Linked DNA regions of Homo sapiens: region 1 is linked to region 2. The links come from fine-mapping of genetic effects on gene expression. A gene starts in region 2. The other region holds a variant in brackets. All regions are shown on one strand. Distances are from middle to middle.

Region 1 (4,395 bases), 86 kb before region 2:
TGTATGAAGGCCTATTTTGCTAAAATAAGCCGAGTGGTGACAGCTGAGGCTACAGAGTCGAGCAGACCTTGGTCTAAATCCTAACTCTAATTTACTAGGTGAATGGCCTTGGGGAAGTCATATAATTTTCTGGGTCTCAGTTTTCCCATCAGTAAATAGACTAATAATAATTACCTCATAGCCTTCTTAAGAAGCTCAAATGCAAGTAAAATACTTAACCTGACACTTAAAAGGGCTCAATAAATTTTAGATATTATTACTTGTAGAATGAGGAAAATAATACTTACTTAATACTGTTGATGGATTAATAATTTAGTGCATCCTACAATGTCTAGCCCATGATAAACACTGATGGCTAGTGTTATTTTTAAATTAGGCCCTTTGGCCAAGTATGGTGGCTCACGCCTGCAATACCAGCACTTTGGGAGGCCACGATAGGAGGACTGTTTGAGGCCAGGAGTTCAAGACCAGCCTGGGCAACATAGCAAGGCCTTGCCTCTGTTTTGTTTATTTTATTTTGAGACAGAGTTTCACTCTTGTCACCCAGGCTGGAATGCAATGGTGCGATCTCAGCTCACTGCAACCTCCGCCTCCTGGATTCAAACGATTCTCCTGCCTCAGCCTCCCAAGTAGCTGGGATTACAGGGACGCACCACCGCACCCCACACCTGGCTAATTTTTGTATTTTTAGTAGAGACGGGGTTTCACCATGTTGGCCAGGCTGGTCTTGAACTCCTGACCTCAGGTGATCCACCCATCTCAGCCTCCCAAAGTGCTAGGATTACAGGTGTGAGCCACCACACCCGTGTTTCTTTTTTTAAGGGCATAAAAAATAAAACAAAGTTAGGCCCTTTGAACAGTTAATCTCTCCTGTCCCCAGCCCCCAAATAAGTCCTGTGAACTGTAAGCTTTAAATACACAATTTCAAAGTTTTTTCTCAAGTTTATAATCATAAACGTTTATGGTTCTATGTAGTTGTAATTAGCGAGTAGGGTACACTATGTTTGTCACCTCTTTGGACCTTGGTTTCTTTGTCTGTGAAAAGAGGAATTAGACTACATCATCTATAAGGCCTCTCCTAACCTTAATTCTATCTCTAATCTCATCACCAACAGCATGACAGAAACATGAACCCCTTTGCTACAAACCAATCTGAAAGATTTCTTGAGTCAGGCCCATACCTGCTGTACCCGCCTAGCACAGTACCTTGCGCTCTTCAAATCTTCAATACATATTTGGTGAATTAAATATGTTGCTTCATAAATTAAACATACTATGAATTAATAATGTCAAAGCTTTCTGAATTCTTATAATACTTTCAGGACTCAAATAATTCATGAACTGAATTATCAAGCAAAGACCAAACTACTATAATCAAATTAAATTAAAGTATTATTCCAAATGGGGTTCTTAATTTAGAAGCACAGAATATCAAATCAAAAGTTCCTATGTGCCCTCTCCTGGCCAATTGCTGGAATAACACTCAATTAAAACAAAATGAAGCAACCTTAAAACAGAAAATACAGACAAATTCTAATTCTAATTATCAGTCCTCATCTGAGAGTGACCTAAGTATCTCTGGTCACTCACTCTTCCTTGAGACACTTTCTTTAATTGGGTTCCAGGACACTTGGGGTTTTCTTCTCCCCTCTCTGGCCACTCCCCCACAGTCTCCTTTGTTGTTTCCTTGTCTCCCTCCCTGGTCTGTAATATTGGCTGCCTTAGGCAGGAATCAATCCTCGGACTCTTTCTATCTACACTCACTCCCTTGGTGAAGTCAACCAGCTTTGCAGCTTTAAACATTATCCATGCATTGATGACTCCCAAATGTACATCCGTTCCCTGAACTCTATAAACTCATATACCCAATTGCCTACTCGTATCTCTACTTGGATGCTTACAACAGCTCAGATTTAACAAACCCAAAAGTGACCTACTAATATTCTCCCCAAACCTGCTCCTCTGGAAGTCTTCCTAGCTCAGTAAGTGGTTAACTCTACCCTTCCAGTTGCTCAGGTCATAAACTTTGGTGTCACCCTTCTTTCTCACACCTCCCATCCAATGCATCAACAAGATCTGTCAGGTGTGGTTAACATACTGCCAGAATCCAACCATTCACTTACCTTCACGGCCACCCTAATCCAAGCCACCATGATCTCATACCTGAAATAGCCAAC[G/A]GTCTCTGCTTCCATCCTTGCTCCCCATCCCCACCCCAGTCTATTCTCAACACAGCAGCCAGAAAGAACCACTCATAAACATAAGTCAGATCATATAACTCCATGCTCAAAACCTTACAACAGTTTCCCATCTTGCTCAGAATAAAAGCCAAAGTATTTACAAAAAATAATAAGGCTCTATATGATTTATGACTGCCCCTTCCTCTCTGACCTCATCTCCTATCACTATCCCTCTCCTTTTTGTCATTGTTCCTGACACCAGATATGGTTCCTTGGAGCTGTTGCACTTACTATTCTATCTGCACAGAATGCTGTTTGTTCAGATGTTAGCACAGCATGCTTCCTCATTTCCTTCAAATCTTTACTCAAAGATTATCTTTTAGTGAGGCCTTCCCTATCTAAAACTACAAGTTCCTCTCTCAAACACACATACTTCTTATTCTCAATCTCTGCTTTATTTTCTCATAAGCAGATGTCACTATCTAATATACTCTATATTTTACTTATTTTGCTTATTTGCCCCCCTTACTATATTGTACACCCCACAATGGCAAGGGATTATTGTCTGTTCCTGTTCCCTGCAAAATCCTCAGTGCTAGAATAGTTCCCAGCTCAGAGCAGGCACTAAATACATATTTGTAGAATCAATGAAAGAATACAGAGACAGGTAAGGTAAGAGGACTGAGTGTAAATAACTATGCCAAAATTTTACACATGGTTGGAAACTGAGGAAAGCTTAAGAGGATATGCCCCCATCTAAAGGGTGGTACAGACAGGCTTGGTGGCTCACGTCTGTAATCCCAGAGACTCGGGAGCCTGAGGTGGGAAGATCACTTGAGCCCAAGAGTGCGAGACCAGCCTGTACAACATAGTGAGACTCTGTCTCCTAAAAAAAAATATTTTTTTGGCTGGGCGTGGTGGCTCATGCCTGTAATCCCAGCACTTTGGGAGGCCAAAGCGGGCGGATCGTTTGAGCCTAGGAGTTTGAGACCAGCTTGGCCAACATGGTGAAACCCCATCTCTACTAAAAATACAAAACTTAGCCAGGTATGGCGGCCTGCACCTGTAGTCCCAGAAAATATTTTGTTTAGATCCTCACTTTGACATTTAACTGTGTAACCTTCAGTAAGTCACAAAACTTCTCAAATGTATGCATCAGTAAAATAGGAGACTTGGAATTCAAAAACTGAAAACTGTCAGTCAGCTAACAAATATAGCCTACAGAGTAATCCCAGCACTTTGGGAGACTGAGGTGGGAGATTACTTAAGCCCAGGAGTTTCAGACCAGCCGGGCAATATAACAGGACTTTGTCTCTACTAAAACTCAAAAAAAAGTCAGGTGTAGTAGTGCACGCCTGTGATCCCAGCTGCTTGGGAGGCTGAGTTGGGAAGATGGCTTGAATCGAGGCTGCAGTGAGCTATGATCATGATACCGCACTCCAGCCTGGGTGACACAGCAAAACGCTGTCTTTAAAAAAAAAAAAATTTTAATATCTATATATATATGTGTGTGTATATACATGTATGTATGTGTATATATGTATATATATGTGTATATATGTATATATGTGCATATATGTGTGTATATATATATATATCCTGCAGAAATGTTTTATTTGGTCAGCAGCAGTTTTCTTAACCTAATTCAATGTTTTTAGATGAGGAATACACTCTACTGACCACCACAGGCCCTCCCACTCTCATTTTACATAGACAACTTCCCTTAGTTTATTTATTTCTAGTCTGGGGCCTATATGCAATTAAGTTTCCTGGCGGCTCATGCCTGTAATCCCTCCAGGCCAAGGCAGGAGGATCACTTGAGCCCAGGAGTTAGAGACCAGCCTGAGCAACACAGCAAGACCCTAAAAATTAGCCAGGTGTGATGGCATGCACCTGTAGTTCTAGCTACTTAGGAAGCTGAGGTGGGAGCCCGGGAGTTTGAGGCTGCAGTGAGCTATGATCACAGCACTGCACTTCAGCCTAGGCACAGAGCGAGACCGTGTCTCCAAAAAAAAAAGGAAAAAAAAGTTTCTCATCACTGAATCAGATTATATGCTAAAATTTTACATGGTTATCATGAACATTATTTATACCTTTCTACTTAGTTTTCTTATGGTCATTTTCCCCACTAGAAAATCCAAAATAAGGATTCACAAAATTATGTAATAACTTCAGAATTGCAAATAGCCTTAGAGATTATCTAGCAAAATCAAACACT
Region 2 (4,395 bases):
GTTTCCGTAAAAGCAAAAGCAACAACAACAAAAAACCCCACACAACCAAAAGACGCCTTTAACTTCCATTTAAAAGAGAATTGGTTTTTAAAAAGCTAACCACTGTTATACATATCTGGCATATATATGGGGACTGCCGAAGCCAGACAGTTGGCAAAAATATGTAAGCCATTTTTGCTCCAAAGTTAGCTAGGATCTGTGGGGAAGTAAACAATAGCTTGCAAGCCCCTGAATGTAGTGCCACTCAAAAATTAAAGAGGAATCGCACTATGCACATTTAATTTAGCAAGTCAAATTACTGCATATGCTGGCCAAAAAATAAAATAAAATAGCAACTTAAATACCAGCAGGATAAGGGCAGTGGCTCACACCTGTAATCCCAGCACTTTTGAGAGGCTGAGACTGCAGAATCACTTGAGCCAGGAGTTCGAGACCAGCCTGGGCAACAAAGTGAGACCCCGTCTCTACAAAAAGTACAAAAACTTAGCCAGGCATGGTAGTGTGTGCCTGCAGTCCCAGCTACTCAGGAGACTGAGCTGGGAGGATCACTTGAGCCCCAGGAAGTCAAGGCTGCAGCAGTGAGCTGTGATTACGCCACTGCATTCCAGCCTCAGCGACTGAGCAAGAGCACGTCTCAAAAAAATCATCATCATCATCATCATCATACCAGCAATTCTGCCTGCCACTTTCCACTTTGTAAGCACATGCTCCAAAATGAGCCTAAGATAGGGGTTTGTCTTCCTCCTTTTAAGCCTCCTCAGGGCAAGCATCTCACAGCGCATCACAACTCTATGGCTTTCAAATATGCTTATTTGCACAACACAGCCCCTAAAGGTAATCTAATTACTTATCTGGGTTACAACCAAAGCAACAGTAACAAGTTTCAAAACTGAAGGAAAAACCGTCCAGGATGTAGTCAGAAACAGGATGCTAATCTCAAGCGTTGCACCTTCCTAGGAATTTTTAAGGGTTAATTTTTATTACATACAATGTTTGCCTCACGGGCTGACTTAAAAACTTGACTCCCACATGAGCTACACAGAAAACTGTGCAAGAAGGAAAGGTTTTCACAAACACACTCACACCTATGAATTACTGAAGTCCCTGCTCTGTGTTGACCTGCAGTGCAGTATGTTCAGATCGCTCCCGTTCATCTACGGTGTAAACTTCTCCAAAACATAGCTTCTTATTTACACAGGAAAGCTCTGAAGGGCAACTAATGATAAAGCCACAGGAAAGTTTTCTCTGCAAGCAATCAAGGCCTTGCTCGGGAAAAGAAACGTTGAGTCTGATTTTGTTCGTTTAAGCCCAAGTGTACAAGGAAACAATAAACATCACTTCCTTATTCTAGAGGACTGAACAAAGGCTTTGCCGTGCATAGATATGATAGAAAAGGAAGTGGCACGTTTGAAGAAATAAATAGCAGCAGCGTTTAAGAGGATCCTCTGACCCTCCCTTACCTCCAAACAGTGTCTCAAGGCACTGCCCTGGATTGAACCGCAGTTCAAACTTCTTAAAACCACCCGAATGGCCCAGGTCTGTGAGTTGGCTCCTCCATTCATAAAGCCATAGAACACCAAGAAAAAGTTATGGGGCCGCAAGAACTAAGGAAGAGGCGGCGATTTAGAAGGGGGAGGCCCGCAAGATTCCAAATTCAGGTCCTCCTCCCCACTACTCCGTCTCCCATCATCATTCTCTTCTCGTTTATCATCATCCTTCCACTTCAAATCACACTCAGTCCTCCTCCTTCTGACACGCCATTCTTCTTCTGTTTTTGTTTGGTAAAGCAAAGTTAAAATTACGGGCCTTAGGACTAAGATAACTAAGTTCGAAGCCAGGCCAGGCCACGTAGTAGTCGTGTGTCCTTGCATAAGCCACTTAATCTATTTCGTGCCTCGGTTTTCCTATCTTGTAAAATGGGTTTGATAACAGTACGCACCTCGGAGGATTGGAGTAGAAGTTAAAATGAAGCATATGAGATGCTTTGTAAAGTCCCCGCACATATTACTCGAATATTATCGTGTGACGGTGGCCATTATTATTACTACTCTTTGCTGGGGTTCCTCTCCTCCTCACACACCCTGCCCCTTACACACGCCCCCACTCCCCTTCCCCCTACAGACCCCCAATGGTCTCTCACACTCTTTCATCTTACGCTCCTCTTTCCGGTAAGCGCAGGCCCGCTTACCGGGACCGACAGGGCCCGCGAAGCGCTGGCTGGCGGGCTGACGAGCTGGCGGGCTGGCGGGCTGACTCCCCGACGGCGGCGACGGCAGCCCCTGGCCCGGAGCTCTTTTCCCTCTACCCCGGATCTGCTCCTAGAACCGAACGAGCCAGTGAGGTGAGCGCCCCCGTGCCCAGAGCGGTCTTACGTGCCTCCCACCAAACAACCGGACGGCACCACTCTACCCACCCGATCCGCCCGACTCGCCTGCTCTCTAGAGTCACTCCAGACGCGCGCGCGCGCCTGGTCACGCCCGCTCCTCCCCCTTTGCGCGCCCCTGCGACTCCGTGCGTGTTCGCTCTGCCTGTGAGGTCGCGGGAAGCAGCGCGCAGGAGCAGAAGTAACAGGGTGCCGCCGAATAGGTGGGGAGTGGAGGCCTGGAAGCACGCTTGCGGAAGACGGCCCGCCTGCGGCCCTCTTCGCGTGATTAGTTGCGCTCGCTCAATTTAATCATGATTCTTACTCCTCCATTTTGGTCCTCTTTCCGAGCGAACAAGGAAGGGGCGTGGTCTAGAACTAGCGCCCCCCCCCACCCCCCCGCCGTGGGCGCGGCCTGGAAAAATCCAAAGGCCGAGGAAAGGGCGTGGCCCTTCGAACAAACCCCTCGAATTACCACGCCCCCTCCTCCTGGCTTTGAAGGACCGTTAAAATCGTTGGCACGAAGGGATTTGTGAAGAGGCTGACGGAGAAAGAGGCTGTCGCGACTTTCTGTTCTAACATGGCCCCGTAGATGTCTCACAAAGCATCTATCCTACGGTTCCTTTCTGGCAAACAATTAGTTGGGGGTGGGGCGGCTCCCCAAAGCCGAATGTGGGTGACGTCCGCCAAGGCCCGCCTACCTCCCGGCCTCACCGAGCAGAGCGAGGAACATTGCCATAGCAACTGGCCCGCCAGGGTCTGCTCGAGTTACAAAGAGGACGGCGCCTCCCGTGGGCACGGCGCCTGGCCAGCGCAGGCGTCGCCGGGCTCTTCAGAGCTCCAAAATCTTTGCGGACGCGCAGGGAGCTCGCCAGATTTTAGTGTCGAGACCCACGGGCTCAGGCCTCGCCCAGGAGCTTCTGAGGCCCCTCTGCCAGCCCCTTGGTTCCCTCTTAATCCTGCTTGAAGAGAGGGCTCTTGACCGACGCCGGCCCTGGGCAGCGTGTGGCCAGCTGGGGCGCGCCTCCGCCTCGTGTTCTCCGCGGTGGGAGAGCAGACAAAGCGCCCGCTTCCTGCACACAGTGTCGGCGGCGGGCCGCCCTCAGCCACTCCCGCCAGCGCTCCACCCCTGTTCCCGAGAGGACGTGGGGGCTGCCCCAAGCACGGTTCTAGTTCTTGTCCCAGATGCTTGTACTTGAGAGGCTGTTGATAAGAAAACGGCAAATGTACCCCTAGTGACGAGGAGAGGGGCTTCTACTATTCACTTTGCACTTTTAAACATTTCCCCCTAAGGGGATTCTCCAAAATCCTCCAATTCCTAGGCTGGATGCCGAGCTGGCCTTGAGCGGCAATTTCAAACGGGATTCCCAAAAGCTGTTCTCCAGGGAGGTGAACTAGCTCCAGCCTCCAGGATAAGAGCATCAAATGCACTTTCTGAACTCCAGTCCTCCTCTTCTCCCCCCCAAATGAGTGTCTAGCTCCTTATCTGCAAAATTAGGTTACGAATGGCTGTCGTGAGCTTGTGAAGATTAAATAGTTAATAATTGGAAAAACACCCCGCACCGAGGAAGATATAAAAGAGCGTTCAATAAATGGCATGTCTCAGTTTGCTCTCCCTAAAACAGTCGATTTGGGGCCGGGATTGGTGGCTCACTGAGCCTGTAATCCCAGCACTTGGGGAGGCCAAGGCAGGCGGATCACCTGAGGTCAGGAGTTCAACACCAGCCTGGCCAACATGGCAAAACCCTGTCTCTACTAAATAATACAAAAATTAGCTGGGCGTGGTGGAGGGCACCTGTAATCCCAGCTACTCCGGAGGCTGAGGCAGGGAGAATTGCTTGAATCCAGGAGGCGGAGGTTACAGTGAGCCTAGATCGTGCCACTGCACTCCAGCCTGGGCGACACAGCAAGACTCCCTCTCAAAAAATAAAAAAATAAACAGTGATTCCGTTGAGGGATACACTGATAAAGAAGGCAGGCAAGTGCCCCATCCCCCAGTCAGTTCTATGGGTTTCTTTTTTTTTTTTTTTTTT

Which allele goes with the higher level. Alleles are on the strand shown, and positions count from the first base shown. SD is a standard deviation of normalised expression in the study named.
For the expression in fibroblasts of the gene that starts at base 2,330 in region 2, allele A in region 1 goes with a lower level than allele G (moderate effect, 0.54 SD a copy in GTEx).

The links. PIP is the estimated chance that this variant, and not a neighbour inherited with it, causes the effect.
Region 1: its variant is fine-mapped to the expression of CNOT8 in fibroblasts (GTEx, PIP 0.94).

Annotation. Positions count from the first base shown.
Region 1 is chr5:154,942,946-154,947,340 of GRCh38, reverse strand. The region is part of intron 2 of MRPL22 (mitochondrial ribosomal protein L22); the gene reads right to left. Among named protein-coding and RNA genes, the nearest start is that of MRPL22, 4.1 kb to the right of the region's middle. The variant G/A (reference allele first, on the strand shown) is at 2,178.
Region 2 is chr5:154,856,562-154,860,956 of GRCh38, reverse strand. It overlaps CNOT8 (CCR4-NOT transcription complex subunit 8), which reads right to left and starts at 2,330. Exons shown (of 7, transcript NM_001301073.2): 1 at 2,189-2,330. RefSeq lists enhancers at 1,022-1,524, 2,028-2,530, 2,486-2,655, 2,531-3,034, 3,035-3,536 and silencers at 2,066-2,125, 2,186-2,285.